Linked DNA regions of Homo sapiens. The protein of the gene in region 4 purifies or fractionates together with the protein of the main gene of each other region. This does not show direct contact. Each region holds a gene or a part of one and is shown on either strand. Other genes may lie near its edges.

Region 1 (4,164 bases), on a different chromosome or scaffold from region 4:
CATCAGTGTCTGCATTTGGGAGAGGTGGATATGGGGAGATCCAGAGGGGGTGTATTTTGGCTTTACTAGCGGTGGAGCAGAGGGGTAGGGAAGCCCTTCACCTGGATAGCATTAGTGGGACGTTCCAACAGGTGGTTTCAGGTTAACTCTGAAATAAATTATTCTGCTATAGCTGGGCCATGAATTCTAGAAATGTTACAGTGTATGAGGGCCACGTAACAGATACTCCTGTCAGATAGATTCAGACTTCTTAGACAGCCGCCACTATAACAAATCAGTCGTGAATATCTCATAGAGTCTGGTTTTGTTGATGTTTCCTGGTTGGTTGTTTTTGTTGTTGTTCAGAGATGGTGGCTACTGCCACCTGAGACCATAATTAAGGGAGATAGATTTTATTATCACATATTTTCCCCTTCCATCCAGCTAGCACCTCAAAACACTCAGAAGAACCTTTGAGGCCTTCCTCCCAGAAGTTTTGTTAAAACAATGAAATGAGAGCATCAGACTGGCCAGTTTTTTTACTCTAGGGCCATGGAGCTGCTACTTTATGCAGGATTTAAGCTCTGTATTCTAAATATCAAAGAGCATAGTGGAAGAGACAGCCTTTTCTGATAGGATTCAGAGACTGCGGCCCTTACTATCCAAGAGAAGCTTCCTGCCTGCTATGTCTCGGGGTGCTTTTCTTGGTGACCACTGCACTGGGACCTTAGAGAGGAGCACCAAGATGGCAGATGGGAGTTGTCTGAGGCACATAGGTTCTCTTGCAGAGCACCTTGGGAAAGGGAGGTAGAGTACGTGTGCCTTCGCCATCACTATTCTTCATTTCGTCTTAGTGGTGAAAGCACCAACTTACTGCTTCCTCTAAGGGACTACCTACTTATAGAATATAAGGGTAACTGAGCACTTGGTCATAGAGAAGAAAAATAAGGAATGATGTCCTGGGCAAGAAGAGCAAGAGACCTGGTGGGAGAGCTGCACTTGACCCCAAGAACCTCCTTGCAGGATGGTGAGAAAGCCTCCTGTTTGGATGAGCAGGAAGTGGCACGGTCAGATTCCTCTGTCTGGCCTGGTCTTCCGCATGTCTGGTTTCATCTCACAGACCAAATCAGGACTCACTTGTCTGGAAAATGGCCTGAGAATACCTTTCTAATCCCAAACTGAGGGCCCGGAAGTCCATGCTTAGAAAGTGATTGATACATGTTGGTTCAGGTAACAGAATTTTCAAGCTTGGTTTCATGTTAAAACTTTTTCTTAATTTGAGCTGAGGTTAACCATTGACTTAGTCAGTAGAAGCTGATCATGTCTTTGTTCTTCATGTAGTTTATAATGGGACCAATGGTTTTTATATCAGCAAGAAATGACATGTCTATAGGATATGCTCCTTACAACTAATATTTTCCTGATAATTTCAGAAAACCAAATTTTTATCTCTAAACCGTAAATTCATGTTGGCCCACCTGAGCTGAGCTAACCAGAAATAAAAGTTATTTTGCAAAAGAAAGATTAAATTTATCTTATTTTTGGCCTATTAAGTCTATATTTCAGCATTGCATTTAAAAAATCCTGTATTCGGAGAAATTCATTTAAGACCATGGAAAAAAATAGACGTATCACAATTGAGGAACCTTAAGGAGCCGCATCCTTCCTGAACACAAAGGGACTCTTCACATGGTTATGTGTCTCTACACTTAACTCTGAGCCAATGAGAAGAGTTACGTTTACAGAGAGAGGACACAAAATTCCATTAATGCTCATTCCTGGTAAATCTTAGGAACACCAGAGAACTGTTTCTGGCAAAACTTTGCTTCCAGAGGAACAGCTGTTACAGTTTGGTGCTTCCTTGGAATTTCTTGAGATATAGCCTGTCAGCTCTTGGTGAGGAAGTAGCAGAGCTACACCAATCAGGAAGACTTGAACCCTGCTTCTAAGACTTGCTGGGTGACTTTGGGCAAACCATGTAGTATCTCAGCACTCCAAGATGGTAGGCTGAAACACTGTGTGGATAAAAGAGACCCGTGAAGGTGTTAGGTAAACTTACATAGCATTAGAAGTCAAAGGAAATACTGCATAAGCCTTTACTAAAGGGAAAGTGTACCCACAAAAGAGGCCCCAGTAGTGGTTCTGATGACCAGGATATGTAGAAGCAGTGCTGTAGATGGGGAGGCACTCCACGCTCCCTCAGGGGACTGGTCTCCTTACCTGCGGAGGTCTGAGTGACCGTCTGTGCTGCCTGCAGCTGCATGATGTCAATTTGGTTGTTCATCTCGGAGTACTTGCTCTCAGCATCTGTGAGCCGCGACTCCATGCGCTTGCTGTTGCTCTCCAGCTCCATCACCTGCATGACCACGCTGACCCAGTCCCTCTCCTGCTTCTTGTTCAGTTCACTCAGCAGGCTGCTAAGGTTGGCAACTTGGGCCTTGAGCTCCTTCACCTCCTCACAGCAGTTGGCCGCTTTGAGCTGTGGCTGTGCTGGTGTCTTGTGCTTAGAGAGCTTCTGCAGCCACGCTGGGTGGCTGACAAAGGCCACGATGAAAATGCAGAGCCAGGTCACAGCTGAGAGAGGCTTTTTCAGCATCTTTTGTGGGTTTGGGTGAGGAAGGCTCTTCCTTCAGGGGAGTCTGGAGATGCCCAGCTGAGGTCTGCAAAGCTGCAGCAGGCTGACTGAACCTTACGCTTTCACTCTGAGGGCCTCGCCACTTTGTTGTTTTCTCTCTTTCCTTGCTCTTTGCTAGCCTTTCTCAAAGCTTGAGTCTCTGACAGGGGAGCTGAATGGGTAGCCTATAGCTTTCCTTCCAAGCCCGAATGCTCCACAAGTCAGCATCTTAAATATTGTTTGCTGCCTGTACCTCCACCCCTACCATGGCTGCACCAGGCTTTAGCCCCTCCCAGCTCATCTGGGAGGGTCAGGTGCCTGTTGGGTGAAGTCAGCGGCAACTTAGGCCAGAGGAGGGGAGGAGGGAGATGGGGCGAGTCTTTCTTTCCTTGCCTGTACAGTCTCTGGGCTAAGACAAGAGGACTGTGAATTTGTGTGTTTCCAGTTTCGCCTATTAGATTATGCCCCTGCCAGCCACTGGCTCAACTCTATCAGCAAGCAGGACAGGGTCAGAAGAATTTCCAAATTCCGTTCAAAAGGTTATATAACCATGGGGTGAGCGTAAGGTAGGCGAAAGAGACGCTACTCACCCAGGGAGGCCTGTTAATGTAATCCATGCTGTTTATATGAGGATCTGGTATATTTTGACATCCTGCTGAATATGCTTTTATCTAGGCTGATTATTCCCATCTCTGATCATTATTTAGTATTTTATAAAATCCTTACTCAACCTGGATCTAACACTATCTCACATTTGAAATCTTCCAACTTAGAAAAGTTCTAGAAATAGAAGAATAGAGTAAATCTCTTAGGAAGCCAAAAAAAGACTTTGTAGCCACAGGGTTTGGACAGTTGTCTTTTTACATGCTTTCTCCTTCAACAAAGAGAGGGCCAGTATTAGCATATAACACTTGATATTTTGCAAGGAGGTGTCAGAAGATTACAACAGAGATGAAAACTCAGCAGTGCCAAGCATGTCTGGGATTGGTCACCCATGCTTCTGTCAGTTTCTAGGCAGGACAGAGAACAGGCCCATCCTTAGCCCGTGGTTCAAAACTTGGAAAATATATTAAAATATAGAGAAAAGAATCCCTGTCACCTAATAAATCCATATCTAGAGTCTCATTTCCCTCTTTCTTTGCTGGTATGGTTTGCAATTTGAAATTATTCCTCCTCTATTTGTATATGACTTTGTATCTAAAAAACATGAATATTGTAATTTTTCATGTACTATATATGAAGGACAATGCTCTTTTGAAAAGAAATGTGAAAAACATGGAGTTTCAGCAAACATCCTTAAAATAAGCTTTTCACTAAGAATCTATACAAAGGTTCCTCTGTCCTTAAAACAGTAACTCTGTCTTTGGAACATACGATTGCTGTTTCCATGTTATGGAGCCACTCAGGCAGTTACTTGTACTGTTGTAGTCAGCGTGGGTCCTTCCCACATAAGCCTGATGCCTGACAGCTCTCCTCCCATGCCATAATCCCCCAGAGCTCTTTTCCAGTCAGGGCTTCTAGCTCCTCAGAAAGTAATTTCTGTTCAGGCAGCTGGAGTTACTGAACAATTT
Region 2 (2,874 bases), on a different chromosome or scaffold from region 4:
GGCTGCTTTGGGAGACAGAACCCAGAAACCTGGCATACTGGCAAAAGGGTAAGAATTTCTTACCAGCCAGACTCTGGTCTCTGTCTCTCTGTGCAAACTGCATAAATGAATAGTAAAAGTCACTGTTTATCTCCTCTGTAAAGTTTTGATTAATATAAAAAAAGAATTCTGAGGCCGATCTTAAGCTGTAGTGAATCTGGTGTGCTTTGTGTCTTTCTGTATTGTTTTGTCATAAAGAGGGGTACCTTAGAATAAAATGTGTGCTTAGGACCCCATAGACCTGCTGTTCAAGACACACCAGCAGACTGGTCAGTCATGTCTTTGGGAGCTTGACCTTGTAACCATGTGGCCATGCTTTCTCTTTTCACAGTGGCAGCCTGGGTTTAGGGTTCAATTCCTGGCTTAGGGAATGAGTCCTTTATCTTCTGTCTGTGTATTTATATGTGTTGTGTGTGTACTATAAAAGAGCATTAATTAATTAGCTTAATAATAATAAGAGCTTAAATCAAATATTTTATCAGAAAAGTAAAAAATGTAATGCCTTCTATTTACTTCATGTAACTTAAGTAATCTTTGGGAAATAAAGACAGTTTTAAAGATTATTGGTAAAATAAAAATATCTTCAAAATGTAAATATTTAGTCTAAATTATGCAGGTCAGATATTAGATTTGCAAAATGCTTTAAGGTCATAAACCGCTTCTTTGACTTTTAAAAATTGCTCAATTTATTTTGGAGCATTAGATTCTAGATAAGGCCTGGGGACAAATAGAATTAGCCATGTCCCCTAGCTATGCAAAGAAGGTTATAAAGAAAGGAGATTTTATATAAGAAAGGATCTTATATCGTAAATTCGTGTCCTAAAGTAAAATAAGCGGTTGTTAAAAAAGAGGGATGTTTAGGACAAGTTAGAAAGTCAAAGCATGTCGTAGATGGTCTGTGTAAGTCATGAAATAATTTACAAAAGAGAATTTATGCAAGAAATATACAATTTAACGGTGATTAGACCTCCTAAATGCTTCATAAAATGCCACTATGACTCTTAACTCTACAACTTGCCTGCTTTACAGCTCGGTAAGGCCTGAGACACGTGGAGTCAGATGCTGGAGTCAGACCTTAAGTGTACTTCTCTCTGGGTCCTAGACTCCACAACTAATATATAATTAAAATCCTTAACTTACCAAAGTTTTCACCAAAAGTAAAACTCGCTAAGAGTTAACATTGTAACATGTAAGTGAGACTACTGAAGCAACAGTTTTACATGCAAGTTACGTAAGAAAAGTGAATGCATTTTCAGTGAAAGATTATAACAAGGCATGGGAATGTAGATTTTTTTTTCTGTCTAAAGGGTTAAAGGATTGTTTTAAGTTAGGATAAAGCTAAAAGTTTGAATGAGTTGTGGAAGATTTATAAAAATTAATATTGTAAAAAATTATGTGTGTGAACATATTGACTAAATTTAAAGGGGTATTTTCTGGTTTTTCCATAAATTGAACATCAAAATAAAAGCACAAACAGGGTTTTCTTAAAGCACCGATCTGCTCTTTAACAAACATTTGTAAAGGATTATAAAAGGTTTATGAGAATCTCACCTTATGGTCAAACGGATTAAGATTGGAAAGATATGTCTACAAGGTTTTCTTAAAAATTGGGGTTGACATTAATAGCACACTAATGCAAGGGTGAAATTTGGCTTTCTCTCTTGAACAAGATTTTCATGCAGTATTAAAAGATAATGAAAGATCTTTGTTTGCCTTTTGAATAAACTACCCCCCCACCAAAAAAAAGGAAGGGAAAGACAAGAGACAGATTGTTTGTAAAGTAAGTCTTCCATCTATCAACATGGAAAGGTTTTTGCCTTTTAAAACATTTTTGAGTCATCATTTTGCTAAATGAATGACTATGGTAACCTGGAATTCCATTTCATAATGTCAAGTGTTTTAAATCTTTAACATATTTAATAGGCTTCCCAAAATCAAATTTCAGCTTCAAAATTGTCTTTTCTAACCTCTAACTTTGAGATGCTGCAGAGGGCCCCTGAAGCATCCAAAAGAGAGGTAAACAGAATTATTTGACATGTTTAATTACATGGGAAGCATTGTCAAAAAGAAAAAAATTTAATCTTCTTCAGGTTATATTTTAGTGAATAATATTAATATATGTTCCAAAATTGTATGAGATTTCTAAAATTCCAATATGTCTGAGTATATGCTATCAATCATAATTATGATTATTATGTTATTGTAGACCACAGAAATAACCAAATTTCCTTGTCAATTGTGTTTTTAACTATAACTATTTAAAGTCATTTCCACAGTTAATTGCTTAATGCTGATGCAGTTTCTGAAAACTTCACAAGCATGCAAAGTCCTAGAATATGGTGTCTTTTAGGAGATTCATGAAAGATTGGAAAGGACCCTAAAAAGCACTCTTGAATACAGGTTTCTAATAAGTTTAGAATTATATCATTTGAACTGGGTAAGAATTCCTGGAACTTTAATGAAAAGACTGACTGAGTTCTAAAACTGCTAACCCAAGTAGAACAAAAATTAATTAAATACCAAGAAAATACTTTGCCAGATTTTCATGCTAAATCAGCTGATACTGAAACTGTTTAGATATAAAATTTGAATAAACTCCATCATTTAAATCAAATTACCTATGATAACCCATCAGTTATCAGTGTTATGCACCTAATTTGGGGAAACAACTGGTATTCAAGAGGATATGAGTCTAATGTTAATTAAGCATGAACTCATGGAGAACCAGGATGGCCACCTTGTCCTTCCTAAGTCGTTAAAGCTTTTGTTAGTAAAATTTCTGCATTACATGACTCGTCACGGAAAAGATAAAATGATCCAAATTGAATATATTGA
Region 3 (3,500 bases), on a different chromosome or scaffold from region 4:
TAGGTGAATATTGGCTTGGAAATGATAAAATTAGCCAGCTTACCAGGATGGGACCCACAGAACTTTTGATAGAAATGGAGGACTGGAAAGGAGACAAAGTAAAGGCTCACTATGGAGGATTCACTGTACAGAATGAAGCCAACAAATACCAGATCTCAGTGAACAAATACAGAGGAACAGCCGGTAATGCCCTCATGGATGGAGCATCTCAGCTGATGGGAGAAAACAGGACCATGACCATTCACAACGGCATGTTCTTCAGCACGTATGACAGAGACAATGACGGCTGGTATGTGTGGCACTCTTTGCTCCTGCTTTAAAAATCACACTAATATCATTACTCAGAATCATTAACAATATTTTTAATAGCTACCACTTCCTGGGCACTTACTGTCAGCCACTGTCCTAAGCTCTTTATGCATCACTCGAAAGCATTTCAACTATAAGGTAGACATTCTTATTCTCATTTTACAGATGAGATTTAGAGAGATTACGTGATTTGTCCAATGTCACACAACTACCCAGAGATAAAACTAGAATTTGAGCACAGTTACTTTCTGAATAATGAGCATTTAGATAAATACCTATATCTCTATATTCTAAAGTGTGTGTGAAAACTTTCATTTTCATTTCCAGGGTTCTCTGATACTAAGGGTTGTAAAAGCTATTATTCCAGTATAAAGTAACAAACACAGTCCCTAGATGGATTGGCCACAAAGGCCCAGTTATCTCTCTTTCTTGCTATAGGGCACAGGAGGTCTTTGGTGTATTAGTGTGACTCTATGTATAGCACCCAAAGGAAAGACTACTGTGCACACGAGTGTAGCAGTCTTTTATGGGTAATCTGCAAAACGTAACTTGACCACCGTAGTTCTGTTTCTAATAACGCCAAACACATTTTCTTTCAGGTTAACATCAGATCCCAGAAAACAGTGTTCTAAAGAAGACGGTGGTGGATGGTGGTATAATAGATGTCATGCAGCCAATCCAAACGGCAGATACTACTGGGGTGGACAGTACACCTGGGACATGGCAAAGCATGGCACAGATGATGGTGTAGTATGGATGAATTGGAAGGGGTCATGGTACTCAATGAGGAAGATGAGTATGAAGATCAGGCCCTTCTTCCCACAGCAATAGTCCCCAATACGTAGATTTTTGCTCTTCTGTATGTGACAACATTTTTGTACATTATGTTATTGGAATTTTCTTTCATACATTATATTCCTCTAAAACTCTCAAGCAGACGTGAGTGTGACTTTTTGAAAAAAGTATAGGATAAATTACATTAAAATAGCACATGATTTTCTTTTGTTTTCTTCATTTCTCTTGCTCACCAAGAAGTAACAAAAGTATAGTTTTGACAGAGTTGGTGTTCATAATTTCAGTTCTAGTTGATTGCGAGAATTTTCAAATAAGGAAGAGGGGTCTTTTATCCTTGTCGTAGGAAAACCATGACGGAAAGGAAAAACTGATGTTTAAAAGTCCACTTTTAAAACTATATTTATTTATGTAGGATCTGTCAAAGAAAACTTCCAAAAAGATTTATTAATTAAACCAGACTCTGTTGCAATAAGTTAATGTTTTCTTGTTTTGTAATCCACACATTCAATGAGTTAGGCTTTGCACTTGTAAGGAAGGAGAAGCGTTCACAACCTCAAATAGCTAATAAACCGGTCTTGAATATTTGAAGATTTAAAATCTGACTCTAGGACGGGCACGGTGGCTCACGACTATAATCCCAACACTTTGGGAGGCTGAGGCGGGCGGTCACAAGGTCAGGAGTTCAAGACCAGCCTGACCAATATGGTGAAACCCCATCTCTACTAAAAATACAAAAATTAGCCAGGCGTGGTGGCAGGTGCCTGTAGTCCCAGCTACCTGTGAGGTGGAGATTGCATTGAGCCAAGATCTCAACACTGCACTCCAGCCTGGGCAACAGCGTGAGACTCCACCTCAAAAAAAAAAAAAAAAGAATCTGACTATATACCATGGAAAAGCCACCACTCTGCCACTTAAATAAACATCAGGATCAGAGATTCCAAGAGGACAATCTGCATCAAGTCTTCACCAAGTGTTTTTTAAGCGAAATAATGAAATAGGGAGCAGAATATGCCTGTTGCCCATAGAAACGAGGTCTATTCTTGTCCTCAATTAGGCTTTTTTTTCTTCATAGTTACACCAGAACTAAAGTAAAAGTGGTTTTTCTGTTCTTTCTACTTCTCCCCATGAAATGGGCATATCATCTCAACACTTCACTCCAAGTCGCCACGGGCAACCTTATGACCCTAGGTCCTCCACCCCTAATGTATCATCATTGCCACCCATTTTTATGGTACTTATTGTTCTTAAGCTTATCCTCTTAATCTTTTCATGTAAGCAAAGCTCATTAATTTCTGTCTTGGAAATGCTACTACTCTCTTTAATTACTCACCAAATCCAACTTTAACTTTTGACCTGGTTTCTCTGCCACAAGTTCTGTCCCACTGGAGCCCATACTCACCTACCGCTTTGCCATCACATTTAACAGAAAACTCTTATCAACTTACTTCCTGCTTAACATTAGCTCCTTCCTATCTATATCCAAATTTCTTAAATTCAAATTTTTTAGCTGGAGTAAAAATGGTCCCAGTACCATTTCCTGTTCCCTTCACTATAACCTACATTTTTGTCACATTAAGTTTTTCCCCATTCCAGGACAGGTCAGGCCCTTTAAAAATTTCAACAGCTTTATTGAGATATAATTGATATAATTTAAAAAATCCTGCACATGTGTCATGCTGGAGCCCTATTGATTCCAACAGGGATGGCGCCTTGTCCAAGAAGAGACCCAGAGCCAGTGAATGGGACATAGGGTTTATTTAGGACTTAAATACAGATGTGGTCCAGTGGCAGTGGGCTGGACAGGACCGCTACTATTTGTAAAGAGTATGTAGTTTATATAACATTTCTACTTAGCACTCTCCACTTAGCAACCTCCATTTAACCCAAAATAAAAGGCCTTGGTTCCTTGCACATCCTGAGTTCCAACGGACAGGCAGGGAGTTCAAGTGTCCTTCACAGATAAGAAGTGAATCTCTCTGGGTTGGCCATTCCCGGATTCCTTAGCTTAGACTCTGAACACATATTCTTCTTAGACCATACAGTCATTCTCAGGGTATGCTTGAGTTAATGCTGTCGGATGCATCTGTCATACAAAGTGTTTAACATATACGATTTCATGATTTTGGAAATATGCATACACCCATGATATCACTGGCACAGTCAAGATATTAAATATATCCATCACCTCCAAAAGTTTCCTTGTGTTCATTTATTTTAGTTTTTCATGGTAAGAACATTTAATATGAAATATTATCAACAAATTTTTAAGTGCACAATACTGTATTATTAATTTTAGGCATTATGTTGTACAGTAGATCTCTAGAACATATTCATCTACTAAAAATGAAATTTTATCTCCATTTCCCCCTACCTCCCATCCCCTGGCAACTACCATT
Region 4 (4,284 bases):
ATGTATATTTTTTGGAGAAATGTCTATTTAAATCCTTTGCCCATGCTTTAATTGTTTGTCTTTTTGTTGTTGTAGTTAGGATATGCTCTGGATAACAACCCTTTATCAGATATAGAATTTGCAAATATTTTCTCCCATTCTGTAGACTGTCTTCACTTTTTTTTTTGAGACAGAGTCTTGTTCTGTCACCCAGGCTGGAGTGCAGTGGTGCGATCTAGGCTCACTGCAACCTCTGCCTCCCAGGTTCAAGCAATTCTCCTGCCTCAGCCTCCGAGTAGCTGGGATTAAAGCATGCGCCACCATGCCTGGCTAATTTTTGTATTTTTAGTAGAGATGGAATTTCACCACATTGGTCAGGCTGGTCTCAAACTCCTGACCTCATGATCCGCCCACCTCAGCCTCCCGAAGTGCTGGGATTACAGGCGTGAGCCACCACGCCTGGCCTGTCTTCATTTTATTAATACTGTCTTTTGATACACAAATGTTCATTCCGATGAAGCCCAATTTATCTAATTTTTCTTTGATTGCTGGTGATTTTGGTGTCATTATCTAAGAATCCATTGCCAAGTTTTACTTGGTTTTGATCTCTAGAAGACTGCCATCATACTGAAGGTAATCTTCTGAAACTTGCGGTTTTCTTTCAAAAATTATGTTTATAAGATGATCCATGTTCTTGCAGAGTTTATTCATTTTATGCTGTATAATATTCCATTATATCCACATACAATGCAGTATTGACCCTTCCTCCTGTTGATGGGCATTTGTCTTGTTTCTAGTTACTTTGCTATTATATCAGTGTCACCATGATTATCCAAAAGTAATTCTTTTGTACACTCTAATTTAAGAACAACTAACCCTTTTTAATGAATAAATCAACCTTGTATTGAGTTGCTACTAAGTTTCAGTTGACTAGTACCTGGGATACACACAGGTGCAGACATTTGACTGAGACATATTGATTTTTCTCATCTGCCTATTTAGGCTAATCACCAGACTATAAAACCATGAGAACCACTGCCATTGAGTATAGTCTGTGTCAGTCTACACTATAGCTTTAACTAGTTGTGTGATTTCTTGCAAAGAGCAATCAGAGAAGACACAATAAACACATTTACTGATTTCAGGCTGGAGAGCTTTTAAGCAATAGGGAGATGGCCACACACAAGGTGGAGAAAATTACTGTGAAAAGGAAGTACTTTCTTTAGAGCCCCACCTAAGCTAGGCTGCAGAAATGTCTACAATGGGTTTGAAAAAACTCAAAATGAGCCTTTCTGCAGTGTGAAAATCCTCCAAGATAAAGAGACAGATTGATGGTTCCTGCCGCCGCCCTGTCCTGCCCAGTTGCTGATTTCAGGAAATACTTTGGCAGGTTTGTGGGTCATAGAGTTGCCAGGTTTCTTGGGATTTGTAATAGAACATCACAAGAAAATCAAGTGTGAAGCAAGAGCTCAACTCTTAACAGGGGTATTGTTTGTGGTTTTGTTACTGGAAAAGATAGTGACCTTACCAGGGCCAAAGTTTGTAGACACAGGAATTACGAAATGGAGAAGGGGGAGAAGTGAGCTAGTGGCAGCATAAAAAGACCAGCAGATGCCCCACAGCACTGCTCTTCCAGAGGCAAGACCAACCAAGATGAGGTGGGTCCACAGCTTTCCCTCCTGCCTTTCCTCTGGTTCTTTATTTCAGTCTTTTTTGCATACATCGGTAGAGATGCAGAAATAGAACAAAGAAACGGGCAAATGGGCTAAATTATAGTGAACCAAAGGGCTTAGTGTGTTAAATCTTCTCCTTTTCTGCATCCATAGAAGACAGTGCTGCTGTCTTTCCCAGGAGATAAGATTTACTCTCAGGAGTGTCTTTTTCCTTCAGGTTACATTTTTGACTTTATAGGGTATGTCATCAGCTCCCGTGGTAGGCTTCCTGGCATCCTGAGTATATTTATTAGCAGATATTTTCCTCTTTAAAAATGTACAATAAGGAAGACTAATAGTAACACATTTGAATGACACAATTAATTGACTAGTACCTGGGATACACACTAATACCTGGGATACATCTAATTAAGGCACTTAGATCTTATAAAAATAAACACTTTTTGAAATGTTGAAATAATAAGACTAGAAACTTTTTTTTTTTTTGAGATGGAGTCTCGCTTTGTCACCAGGCTGCAGTGCAGTGGCATGATCTCGGCTCACTGCAACCTCCACCTCCCAGGTTCAAGTGATTCTCCTGCCTCAGCCTCCCAGGTAGCTGGGACTACAGGCGTGCGCCACTATGCCCACCTAATTTTTGTATTTTTAGTAGAGACGGGCTTTCACCATGTTGGCCAGGATGACCTCGATCTCTTGACCTCGTGATCTGCCTGCCTTGGCCTCCCAAAGTGCTGGGATTACAGGCATGAGCCACCGTGTCTGGCCTAGAAACTATTTTAATAGAAGCAAGTAGTGCCCGAATGGTTGGCATTTGTTAGTGAGATGGTGAACTGGCAGACGGCACCTGTGGGTCAATGCCCATGGCCACCGTCCTGCTTTTGGACACCAGTTCTCTTCCAGGTAACCTTCTGGCATTTTGGGGTTTCAGATACCATTTCCTAAAGGTGAATTATTATAAAATACTAGAAATACCCACGTGTTTAAAATTATATATTTAAGGAACCTTTTATTACGGAAAATATCAAGAAGTAGAGGAATAGCACAGTAAGCCCAAAGTTCCCATCTCTGAGTTATCTACATTTTATTACCACTATCTTTGCGGTGTCTGAGGGAGGTTTCTCTTTCCTGGAGGGCTCCTGTATTATTGCCAATGTACTTTCCTGAATGCAGCCAGAAACTGAGCCCACCCCTCCACCTATGTGCCTTTCTATCCCTCTCTGAAGCTTCTGCAGAATTCCCAGCAGGACAGGGCTTGCTGGAAGCTTGGTATGCTCAGAAGCTGCTAAAGTGTGTATGGGCAGGTGTGGGGGCAATTTCTTGGTCCTAGCACTTCCATATATCGACTTTCTTTTCTGGCTGCTAAGTGGGAGGAGTGTGTGTGTATGCATGTGTGTGTGTGTGTGTGTACATGCATGTGTGTGTGGATGCATGCATGTGCTGTGAAGCAGGGAGACTAGCTTTCCACTCCTCCTTGTCTTCTCTCTGCAGTGCCCTGGGAGCTGTCATTGCCCTCCTGCTCTGGGGACAGCTTTTTGCAGTGGACTCAGGCAATGATGTCACGGATATCGCAGGTCAGTCTTTGGTTGGGTAGGAGTGTGCATCCCACTCTGACCCTCTCGGGTCTGCACTCTCTCTGAGAACACCCAATTCCCCCTTCTTATCTCGACCTCTGGGCTTTCAGGACCATAAAGAACATTGGGGTTCCTGCCAGAAATGAGGGGAGCTTGCCTTTCCATTGGCTTCTATTCGGGGTGGAAGGAGATTGATGTGCAGAGCAGCTCCCGCTCATCTGACTTTTCACGGTTCACTGGGAACAATTTCCAAATAGCAAACTCTCTGGCTTCTCTCTCTTTGCAGATGACGGCTGCCCGAAGCCCCCCGAGATTGCACATGGCTATGTGGAGCACTCGGTTCGCTACCAGTGTAAGAACTACTACAAACTGCGCACAGAAGGAGATGGTAAGATGTGGACAACTGTCTCCATGCCCTACATACAACCCCCTTCTCTGACATTTCCATGATGGGTGGTGCTGAGGTGATTCGCCAGAAAGTTCGTTGCTCTCCTTGGAGCCAGGAGATTTAGATTCTAATAAGCGTTTTGTCGCCAGTAGCCATGGCCCTTTGGGCAGACTAACTTTTGTCAGCCTCAAGTTTTCTGTTTTGTTAAGGGGAGGCGATGCCATGCAGCCTACCTCATGTAAATCTCAGAGTCACATTTACATCTCCAGCAGATGTGGGAAAAGAAGGAATGCTGATGATGATGTCACCCTCACCTAGTGAGTCTTGCTGTCCTGGCACTGCTCTAAGGGCTTTATACTTATTTGCTCACTTAGTCCTCACAGTATCCCTCTGAACAGAGTTTATTGTTTTCACTTTGCTGATAAGGAAACTGAGGCACAGACAGGTTGAGTATCTTGCCCAAATTCAGGCAGCCTGTAAGAGGCAGAGTCAGGATTTGAACCCTGAGCCCTCCCTGTACTGCTTGGCTGTGACCGCCATGACCACAGTGTGTTCTGCTGGGCTTAACTGGTGTCCAGGCACTTGGCTTCCAGCACAGCACTCTTTCCCTTCCTCCTTCTCATATTCTCTCTCCTTTCTCCCTTCCTGTCTGCCTCCTTTCTTCTTCTTCTTT
Region 5 (3,500 bases), on a different chromosome or scaffold from region 4:
GGAGAAGTGCTAACTTTTCAACTCAAAGAAAGAAGATTGTTTCACGACCAAGGTCCCTTGATTCAAGTGAAGAAGCAATCTGTCTTTATTATGAGAAACTGGGGAGGTGGGGCCAGGCCAGACTCATGTCAGAAGGCCCCTCAGTGAGAAGCGAAGAAGCAATCTGTCTTTATTATGAGGAACTAGGAGGTGGGGCCAGGCCAGACTCATGTCAGAAGGCCCCTCAGTGAGTGCAGCCCAGGAGACTGGTCACATTCTGGGGTTGCGGAAGGGCCTTGGCTGCATTCAGTTTCTCCACATCACTGTAGCAGTACAAATTGGGACCATGGATGAGGTACAAGCCGGGACCATTGGCGGAACATGAGTTAGGGCCAAGGGACTTTTCCATACACAAGGCTCCGTCTACCTTCTCATGGGGCCAAGGAAGCTCTGTCCACGTGGCTTGGGCTCCTGACTTCAGGTCCAGCCACCACAGCCGCCGTCCTGGGGAGAAGGCACCAAACATAGCATGGCTTCCATGTCATGGGGATCCTGACCTAGGCCTTCTCATGCCCTGGGGATCCTGACCTAGGCCTTCTCATGCCCTGGTGGGGATCTATGCCACAGACAGGTAGCAGAACAAGCTGCCCTCTAAGCACCCAGAAGCCCCTCACCTGCCATGATATGGAGCCGAGAAGACCCAGGGCAGATAAAGGCCGCATCCACAGAGTCCAGGATAATCCCATGAGGGGTCCCGACTTCCTTCTCCAGCCGCTTCGGATAACCGCTTACTAGGGTATAGCCTCCCTTTGTCAGGAAGACATATACCTGGGTGCCCTGGAGGACAAAGGATGGTAATAAATACAGAGTTGGATATGCTTGTCCCAGTCTCTACCTCAAGCCTCTCCCCCAATACACACCTGGACCAGATAGAGTTTTTCTTCCCAGGAAAAGGCAGCATCCACTGCTGAAGGACCCTGGGGCCACTGATGAGCAATGGGCCAGCTATGCCAGCCATCCCGGCTGGTGTCCAGACGCCAGTAGTGGGTCCCTGTGGAATACCATAGGTTGCTCTAGGGCCGCTGGCAGAAGCCCAGGCAGAGAAGAGGCTAGTGATGAATGCAGAAATGAGTCATGAGAGGGAGAGAATGCATCCAGAGGCCAAGATGGAAGAGGCCAGGTGAGAAGGAGAAATAGAGCAAGACTTGGTCAGCAATGTTGGGCACTGTGCCCTGGCTGAAACTGGAATCAGCAGGTGCCTGAAAGAAAGGCAAGTGTGGAAAACAGTGGCTAAGTTTCCAGGTAAGGCCAACATCATGGGGTTGGCGGGCACTCCCTAAGGATTTCAGGTGTCCATGTACAGAGATGCGGTTATAGATAATGAAATACAGTGTCCAGAACTTAAAAAGGAAGCACCACTTCTACTGAATGTTCTCACTCTGGCTGTGTTCTCCAGTCTCTCCCTATGAGGTGGTGGAAGAGTGAGGGAGTAGCTGGGCTAGCACCCCGTTTTTCTTCTCCTCTTTTCACAACAACTTATTAAGGAATTATCTAGGCTCCCATTTGTCTTTTTTCCTCAATCCTCTTCAATTACACTTCTGTTTCCCTCAACCATTGAAATTGTTCTTATCCAGGTTGCTAGTATTCTCCAATTTGCGAAATCTCATGGTCAATTCTCTGTTCTCATCTGACCCTACCTCTCAGGAGCACTGGACTGCTCACTACTTCCTTCTCCTTTAAATGTCTTTTTTTGGAACTTGGCTTCTGTGACACCTGACTCTCCCAGTATTCCTCTTATCTTTTTTGACTACTCTTTTCTTCAACCTGATATCTAAATATTGGAATCCCCTACTTTGGGCCTCTTCTCTTCTCTCTCTACCTTCACTTCCTTGGTAATCTCACCTAGTCCAGGGGCTTTAAATGCCATCTATATGCTGATGACTTCCAATCTGTTCTCGTCAGCTCTGACTGACCTCTCCTTTGAGGTTTAGGCTCCAAATCAGCTGCCTACCTGACATGCTTATGGGGTGCCAATAGGCACCCAAAACCTAATATGCCCAAACTGATTTCTGCCCCCCACCAACACACACACTCCCTAGTCTTTCCCAATTTTAGAAAACAAAACCACCAGCCACTCAGTTGCTGAGTCCACGAAAGCTGAGTCATTCTTGAAGCCTCTTTTCCCTTCCCTACTCTGACTGATATCATTCATTCATTCATTTATTTAGAGACGGAGTTTCACTCTTGTTCCCCAGGCTGGAGTGCAATGGTGCAATCTCGGCTCACTGCAACATTCACCTCCCAGGTTCAAGCGATTCTCCTGCCTCAGCCTCCCAAGTAGGCTGAGATTACAGGCATGTGCCACCATTCCCAGCTAATTTTGTATTTTTAGTAGAGACGAGGTTTCACCATGTTGGTCAAGCTGGTCTCGAACTCCTGACCTCAGGTGATCCACTCGCCTTGGCCTCCCAAAGTGCTAGGATTACAGGCGTAAGCCACCACACCCGGCCTATCTTAGCTATTAGTTAATGCTGTCAGCTCTACCTCCAAAATATATCATGGTGATTCCTCACCACCTCTGCTGCTATCATCCTAGTCCAAGCGGTCATCACCTCTAATTTGGACAACTGCACGGATTGCTAGCTGGATTCCTTGCTTACATGCTTGTACTTTTATAACTTATGTTCTGCAAAAAGTCAGAGTGATCTTTTATAAAAAATGAGTTAGAATATATCACAGCCCTGCTCAAGACTTTCTGATGACTCCCTTTTATGGTTGAAAACCCTTACCAGGTCTAGGTAACCTGGCCACTGCCGTCCCTGCCCTTTCAAGTCACCCACCTGCTCTTTCTCTGTGTTCCAGCCTCACCAGGCTTCCTTCTTGATTCCTTGAAGTATGTGCTGCTCACCCTCCCTAAAATGCTTTTCCTCCAGCACATCGTGTGGTTAATTCCTTCTCATCACTGAAGTCTCAGCTCAAAAATCATTTCTTCAGAAGACAGCCCTCATTCTCCTCACCTCTATCCCACTATCCTGTCTTATTTTCTTTACAACCCTTAATATTACCTAAAATTATTCTCTTTCTTCCTTTCTCTTTCTTATTGTCCTCTCTCACTTTAGCAGAGCCTGTCAGGGCAGGCATCTTGTCTGCCATGTTGACTACTGTATCTCAGTGCCTAGGACAATGCCCACTTCTTATCAGATGCTCAACAAATATTTGTTGAGTAAATACCTAGTGTTCTTGCTGCTACCACAAGTTCTCTTATTAGCCGTGTACTGAGTATACAGCGGTGACTGACATATCCACCTCCCCTGGGAGGTTTCCCACTGAAATTACCCTGCTCAGGAACCATATTTATTTTATTTTATTTATTTGTTTTTTGAGACAGGGTCTCAATCTGTCACCCAGGCTGGATTGCAGAGGCACAGTCACGGTTCACTGCAATCTCTGCCTCCCACACTCGAGCAATCCTCCCACCTCAGCCTCCTGAACAGCTGGGACTACTGGTGCATGCCACCACA
Region 6 (3,500 bases), on a different chromosome or scaffold from region 4:
GAGGCCAGGACTCAGATGGCTGCACTCAGATGGCTAGGTATGCTTTCTACCACACAGACTTTTAAAGTCTTATTATGCATTCCTACTTGGATAGAAGAGTGATGATTTAAAACTACTATAATTACTCTAATAAAAACTATATTTTTATTCAAAATTTAAAGTTTAAAACTTAAGTTACATTTTCATTAAGACAAATACTAACCTTAGTTGTTTTTTTTTTTAAGTGTTTCAAATGCATTTTTAGATAAGGGAGAGTTTTACATAGGCTCAAAGTACAAGAAAGTTGTGTATCGGCAGTATACTGATAGCACATTCCGTGTTCCAGTGGAGAGAAAAGCTGAAGAAGAACATCTGGGAATTCTAGGTATGTTAATATCTCCAGTTTATCAGGTGTGGGTTAATGATGTGATGCTACCTGCAGTAACCGTCAATTCATGTCTATGGGTTTCATTTTCTTGGTTCATATATCAAAGTTGTTCAAATAAAAATTTAAAAATTAGTTATCTAATGAAATAAGACTGATGTTTATTAAATAATATGACATAGTAAAATATTACTTATTTCTCTTGGAAACTATGTATTGTCCCGTATACTGATGAAATTATATATATTTTATCAAATTGATGCCTGTAGTTTTAGTGAAGTTCCCAGAAACTATTTTCTAATGAAATTCTGTTTTTTGACAGAGTCTCACTCTGTCGCCCAGGATGGTGTGTAGTGGTGTGATTTCAGCTCACTGCAACCTGCCGCTCCTGTGCTCAAGTGAGTCTCCCACCTTAGCCTCCCAAGTAGCTGGGACTACAGGGATGGGCCACCACGCCTGGCTAATTTTTGTATTTTTAGTAGAGATGAGGTTTCACCATGTTGGCCAGGCTGGTCTCAAACTCCTGGCCTCAAGTGATCCGCCCACCTCAGCCTTCCAAAGTGCTGGGATTACAGGCGTGAGGCACTACACCTGGCCCTAATAAAATTCTTAACCAATTTATCCCCATTATCCTACCCATTCCTCTCAAATTACAGCTATTTACTTTTAAAATTAAAATATAAATGATTAATTACAAGAAGAAATATACAAAAGGAAATTAATTACAACAGGAAATAAAAGAAAAAATGATACCACGCACAAAGCAGGGGCAAAGCTGCCTTCAATTTTTTAGGACTCACTTTAAGACAGAATGTCTAGAACTCGAGCAACACTGGTCTTGAGACATTTCTTTAAAACTATCAATTGCAGGGACCCCCACTCCCATCCCCACCCCACTGTGTTCCCATACTGTCAGCATTCCCCTGAGGCTTGGTTATCCTCAACCCCTAGACTAAGACACCAAGGCAAAATGGCATTGTTGCTGGAGCACAAAAATCCTACCAGACAAGAGACAAGCTAAGATTGGATAAAGGGTAGAAATGAGAGGGGTATAAATGACTCCTGGCCAGATATCCAACCCACCATGATTAGACCGGTACTCTGCAAAGGACTTTCAGGCCAAACCTCCCCTAGAACTCTTAAGAGATAAACAAATGGTCTCCATTTTTATTTCCAGTGTATTGATTCCAAATTCCCTGGGACGCAGTATAAATCCAAGAGTATTATACCACAAACCCATGGGGGAGAGAAACAAGTTATCTTTGCTGATCTTTGCTTTTATTACTAAGTTAGACCTTCTGATTGGACACTCTTCCTCTTCACTTTTGCCAGGTCCACAACTTCATGCAGATGTTGGAGACAAAGTCAAAATTATCTTTAAAAACATGGCCACAAGGCCCTACTCAATACATGCCCATGGGGTACAAACAGAGAGTTCTACAGTTACTCCAACATTACCAGGTACTCACGGGGGCGGGGGTGGGGGTGGTGCATTTTAACAGGCTGTACAGCCTTTCCACAGATTACTCTCATCATAGAGAGTCTGGACCAAGAAAGTGAAAAGGGAGGTAGTTGTGAAGAGGGGATGCAAGGAGGTGTCTGTGTGTATGCAAGTACATGCACATGCTTGTACTAAAAAAAAAAGTCCACAGGAGAGCTTAAGAGAAAAACCTGAAGGTAGTAGACATCTATGAATCCTCAAGCGTGAATCAGAGAGATGCTGTCTCCTCGCTCAGCTAGAACACAGCTCAAATGGCATCTACCACACCATATGTGGCTGGATGTTCCCATGCCTGTCTCTAGCACATGTGGTTCTAAGGGCCAGAGGCTGCCACTTGGAACTCTAAATTCCCCCTATCTAGTACAGTATCTGGCATATATTAGGAGATCATCAAATGTTTCTTTAATAAACATAGAGTAAAATCTTGAACAGATTATATACATAGGTGAGCATTTTCTTTAATAAGAACCATATTTTTCTTCTATTAGTTGTAAAGTTGGCTTCCAGGAAAATACTATTTCTCAATAACTTAGCAGGGTGTAGCAAGGGTGCTATTTTAGGTAGAGAGGTCAGGAGGGCTTCCTTGAGGAGGTGGCATTGCTGAAAACACCTAAAGTTTGAGAAGTAATGAAATTCAGGTAATTGTGCACGAATTGATTCTAGGCCCCGAAGACAGGAGCAATGCCTGGTGTGTGTGAGCAGCAGCAAGGCAGCCAGAGGCTAAAGAAAAGCACACAAGGGACAGAATGCTAGAGATGAGATCCAGGGAGAGCAGGGGCCAGATGGAGTAGGGAGGACCTCAGACTCGAGATTTAAGACTGATGTTCTGATGGACACCTTTTAAGGGGCTGTTGGTGATGTGTGGTTAAGTGACCCTAAGGGGGCAAGGACAGAATCTGGGGTCAGTTAAGGACCACTGCAATAATCTGGGTAAAATCATCATCATCATCATCATCATCGAGATTTGGAATATGGTGGAAGCGGCTGAAGTGGTGAGATGTTATCATATTCTGGTTCCATTTTAAAGGTGGTACTAAAAGGACCTGCTGGAAAATGGGCACTAGGGAGTGTTAGGGAAGAGAGGAGTCAAGCATGACCCCAAGGTTTTGGGCACTGACCACTGGTGGAAGAGCAGGTTGTAAAGGGGTGTGGAAAAGAGAAGAAAATGTTATTTTGCAGCTTATGAGAATAAGTAAAAGCAGAGATGGCCAGACAGTAATATGTGCAGGTGGTGAATCAATACTTTATATTCTAGTGAAATTTTCTGCTTAGAAAAAGGGTGAGGACATAGGAACAGCTCAGACTGAGGCTTGAAGAAAAAGTAAGACGTCTACCACATCACTTGAGACCATCTCTGTTGTCTTGCTTGATTCTCTAGTGAATGTCTGTTGGACTCTGGCAGGTTAGTGTGATAGCATGAATATGTAATGGTGTGGTCTAAATAAATGGGATGGAAAATGAGTGTGGCTGGGATTGGTGAGTGGGCATGGCCAAAAGTTGAGGCCTGTGAGCAGTTGCACAGGAAGCCCTGAGGTGAATGGAAACGCAGATCAGACTGGAGAAAAGCCTAGAGCACATGGGAAAAGGGTAAGAGCCTTGGCAAAGCAGGAGGGTGAAGCAACTGGTCGTCTTCAA
Region 7 (3,500 bases), on a different chromosome or scaffold from region 4:
TCCATTTGGCACATTTGCTTTCCAATTATTCTCAAGATCAGACATAATTAGAAAGACATCAATATATTTAAATATGGGCAATAATGATTCACAATGAGCTAACTATTTTAGGTTTATATTTTTCCTCAACATATGCTTCCCCATAAATTTATCAGAGCGTTATTTGAACAAAATATAGAGATTTAATAAATATTTGAAAAGTAACAAGGTTCTTTACATACTTTTTAAAAAAATACTTTTTGTTCCCAAAGTACCTCTACTTCATATTAGTTTTTATGCATAATCTACTAATTAGAATGTATTAACTCATTTTTACAGAAAATCAATGGTTTTATTTCTTTGCAGTGAGCCCCATGCACGGTTCTATGCAGCTCAGATAGTGCTAACATTCGAGTACCTCCATTCACTAGACCTCATCTACAGAGATCTAAAACCTGAAAATCTCTTAATTGACCATCAAGGCTATATCCAGGTATGACTTTAACACATTATGTGTACTGTATATGAGAAAATACTAGGCAAGACATTGTATGTATGTAACCCCAACTTGGAATTTTTTTTGAAGAAGACACTTTCTCCTAATAGTTTAAGTAGAGCTCAGAGTTTTGCTGCTATTACAGAGAAGCAAAAATCCTGTTATGAAAGGAACTTGTTTATATCTCCATTAATCTATAGTTGTGAACTGAGTATAGCCTCTTGCATAAGGAGATATTAATAGCTAAATCTATGAGCAGTTATTAGTGCCAGGCATATTCCACTTGTTTTACATGTATTATTTCTTTAATCCTGATAAACCTATGAAGTGGAAATACCATTGTTATCTTCATTTTAAGATTAACAAAACTAAGACATAGCAAGGTCATTTAGCCAATAAATGGTAGAGTCAGAATTTGAACCTAGGCAGTCTGATCCCAGAGTCCATGCCCTTTACGACTACAATATAACTGCCAAAGAATCCCTGACTACCAATACTGAACTCGTAGCAACGTTTTCTTTCCACTTCTACTACTAATAAAGTGGGAGCATTTCTTTTTACACAATTATTGATAGATTCTCCCATTGACGTTTTTACACTTCTGATGGTGCAACTAATGGCAGAGGACACATTGGGGTAAGGCAGACATTTAGCATTGTTTCATTTTTATTAATGCTATTTATTTTTACCTTTTATTTTCACTTTTTTATTCCTTGGGTCTAGGATCTTATAATAATGACTGAAAAGAGTTTTGTTGTTATTAATTTGTTCCTTTTCTTTGAGTTGAGGAAGGATTTCCAACTTGGATTGTTTAAACTTTCATTCACTAGATATTCATGAATGAATTTCAATTACGTGGACTTAATTTTTTTTCCATTTCTTTCATAGTTTCAATTTGAATTTTAAACTTTCAACGTAGGTGCAATAAATACATTTATTGTGAGGTAATACATTTTCACTAGTATTCTTTTTTTCTTTTATAGGTCACAGACTTTGGGTTTGCCAAAAGAGTTAAAGGCAGAACTTGGACATTATGTGGAACTCCAGAGTATTTGGCTCCAGAAATAATTCTCAGCAAGGTATATTCATAATATCAACACATAAGAAGTAGAAATATGAGACATGCATCCCTATGGACTTTTGTAAAAACAGTTTATTGATCTAATTTTACATTTTTAATTTGATCTAAGTTATGAATTTAAATCTATTTGTGCATGATTACTAAAGAATTATTATTTAGCATCTACCACTAATCCTGTAACCTCTGTCAATTTTAACTCTGGGTCTTAGAGATATAATATGAATAAATATGACCTCTAGATCCATGTTTTGCAACCAAAAACATAGTCTTTTCTTAATTATTCCTAGTAACGGAAGGGTAGAGAAGACTTGCTCTGGATTATACCAAGAGGTAAATCTAGAGATGATATGTACTAGTTGTCCATTCTTTCTTTGTTTCAAATTTACCAGTTAAATAAAAGGAATGTATGAGAAGTGTTTTTAAATTTTAAATAGGACTATTAACAGCAATTGAATAGTTTTAGTCTTATTGAAGGCAGCTCTGCTTTTCTAAATAGTGAAACGTGGTGAGAGAAACTGTACCTATATCCAAAAGAATGGTTAACTTTTCCTCTGCCATCACTTGGTGGAGAAATCTAGAAAGGAGAACCTAACAATAACCAGGCACAAATAGGAGAGAGGAAAAGGAAGGGGATAAGACACATGCTTCACTGGTTCCCAAATGGAATCATTGAAATATGGCTAACTTATAGAAGTGTTAAAATAAAAGATTTCTTTCAACTTTTCTCTCATTATCTTTCATAATTTAAATAATATGTAACTTCTTGATATTTTATAATCTAAATATCATTGTAGTTAACACATTTCTTTAAATACAGTTAACAAATAATGGGACAACAAAATGAGCACTAAAACTTTTACAAATGTGTATATATTGTAAAAGTAATACTCATTATACAAAATTTAGAAAATACAGAAAAACATAAACAAACAACCAAAAAAAAACCTATATGTAATCCCACCAACCTAGACGCAGCCTTTTTAAAAACATTCATATATGTATGTACATATATGTATATATGTGTATATGTGTATATATATACACCACATATATGTGTATATATGTGTATATATATACACATATGTGTGGTGTGTGTGTATATATGTATATGTGTATATATACATATATATTCATATATATGTGTATACGCATATATGTATATATGTATATGTGTATATATACATATATGCGTATATATACACATATATACGCATATGTATGCATATATATATGCGTATATATGCATATATGTATATATATGCGTATATATGCATATATGTATATATATGCATATATATATATATATACACACACATTTTAGCTTTATTTTAGCTTTCATTTTAGGTTCAGGGATACATGTGAAGGTTGGTTACAGACGTAAACTCATGTCATGGGGGTTTGTTATACAGATTATTTCATCACTCAGGAATTAAGCCCAGTACCCATAGTTATCTTTTCTTATCCTCTCCCTCCTCCCTACCTCCACCCTCAAGTAGAATCCAGTATCTGTTTTTTCCTTCTTTGTCTTCATAAATTCTCATCATTTAGCTCCCACTTACAAGTGAAAACATGTGGTATTTGGTTTTCTGTTCTGCATTAGTTTGCTGAGGATGATAGCCTCCAGCTCCATCCATGTTCATGCAAAAGACATGATCTCATTCCTTTTTATAGCTGCATAGTATTCCGTAGTGTATATGTACCACATTTTCTTTGTCTAGTCTACAATTGGTGGACATGTAGGTTGATTCCATGTCTTTGCTTTTGTGAATAGTGCCACAATGAATAAACAAATGCATGTGTCTTTATGATGAAATGATTTATAATCCTCTGGGTGTATACCCAGTAGTGGGATTGCTGGGTCGAATGGTAGTTCTGCTTTTAGCTCTTTGAGGAATCTCCATACTGCTTTCCACAATGGTTGAACTAATTTACACTCCTACCAAC

What was found.
Region 1: the proteins of HP (region 4) and ANGPTL7 purify together in Homo sapiens (co-immunoprecipitation; one large-scale study listed by IntAct). This does not show direct contact.
Region 2: the proteins of HP (region 4) and TF purify together in Homo sapiens (affinity purification with mass spectrometry, with the first as the bait; one large-scale study listed by BioGRID). This does not show direct contact.
Region 3: the proteins of HP (region 4) and FGB purify together in Homo sapiens (affinity purification with mass spectrometry, with the first as the bait; one large-scale study listed by BioGRID). This does not show direct contact.
Region 5: the proteins of HP (region 4) and HPX purify together in Homo sapiens (affinity purification with mass spectrometry, with the first as the bait; one large-scale study listed by BioGRID). This does not show direct contact.
Region 6: the proteins of HP (region 4) and CP purify together in Homo sapiens (affinity purification with mass spectrometry, with the first as the bait; one large-scale study listed by BioGRID). This does not show direct contact.
Region 7: the proteins of HP (region 4) and PRKACB purify together in Homo sapiens (affinity purification with mass spectrometry, with the first as the bait; one large-scale study listed by BioGRID). This does not show direct contact.

Annotation. Positions count from the first base shown.
Region 1 is NC_000001.11:11,187,991-11,192,154, reverse strand, and holds the start of ANGPTL7 (angiopoietin-related protein 7 precursor), read right to left. Parts: upstream 2,801-4,164; 5' UTR 2,576-2,800; coding exon 2,200-2,575; intron 1-2,199. UniProt on the Homo sapiens protein: Has a role in the formation and organization of the extracellular matrix.
Region 2 is NC_000003.12:133,791,393-133,794,266, forward strand, and holds part of TF (serotransferrin isoform 1 precursor), read left to right. Parts: 3' UTR 1-2,874. UniProt on the Homo sapiens protein: Transferrins are iron binding transport proteins which can bind two Fe(3+) ions in association with the binding of an anion, usually bicarbonate.
Region 3 is NC_000004.12:154,569,511-154,573,010, forward strand, and holds the end of FGB (fibrinogen beta chain isoform 1 preproprotein), read left to right. Parts: intron 1-3; coding exon 4-289; intron 290-908; coding exon 909-1,140; 3' UTR 1,141-3,297; downstream 3,298-3,500. UniProt on the Homo sapiens protein: Cleaved by the protease thrombin to yield monomers which, together with fibrinogen alpha (FGA) and fibrinogen gamma (FGG), polymerize to form an insoluble fibrin matrix. Fibrin has a major function in hemostasis as one of the primary components of blood clots.
Region 4 is NC_000016.10:72,053,021-72,057,304, forward strand, and holds the start of HP (haptoglobin isoform 1 preproprotein), read left to right. Parts: upstream 1-1,484; 5' UTR 1,485-1,632; coding exon 1,633-1,637; intron 1,638-3,140; coding exon 3,141-3,223; intron 3,224-3,509; coding exon 3,510-3,611; intron 3,612-4,284. UniProt on the Homo sapiens protein: As a result of hemolysis, hemoglobin is found to accumulate in the kidney and is secreted in the urine. Haptoglobin captures, and combines with free plasma hemoglobin to allow hepatic recycling of heme iron and to prevent kidney damage.
Region 5 is NC_000011.10:6,430,988-6,434,487, forward strand, and holds the end of HPX (hemopexin precursor), read right to left. Parts: intron 1,031-3,500; coding exon 900-1,030; intron 817-899; coding exon 654-816; intron 484-653; coding exon 224-483; 3' UTR 62-223; downstream 1-61. UniProt on the Homo sapiens protein: Binds heme and transports it to the liver for breakdown and iron recovery, after which the free hemopexin returns to the circulation.
Region 6 is NC_000003.12:149,180,330-149,183,829, reverse strand, and holds part of CP (ceruloplasmin precursor), read left to right. Parts: intron 1-224; coding exon 225-364; intron 365-1,696; coding exon 1,697-1,825; intron 1,826-3,500. UniProt on the Homo sapiens protein: Multifunctional blue, copper-binding (6-7 atoms per molecule) glycoprotein. It has ferroxidase activity oxidizing Fe(2+) to Fe(3+) without releasing radical oxygen species. It is involved in iron transport across the cell membrane.
Region 7 is NC_000001.11:84,196,271-84,199,770, forward strand, and holds part of PRKACB (cAMP-dependent protein kinase catalytic subunit beta), read left to right. Parts: intron 1-345; coding exon 346-472; intron 473-1,458; coding exon 1,459-1,554; intron 1,555-3,500. UniProt on the Homo sapiens protein: Mediates cAMP-dependent signaling triggered by receptor binding to GPCRs.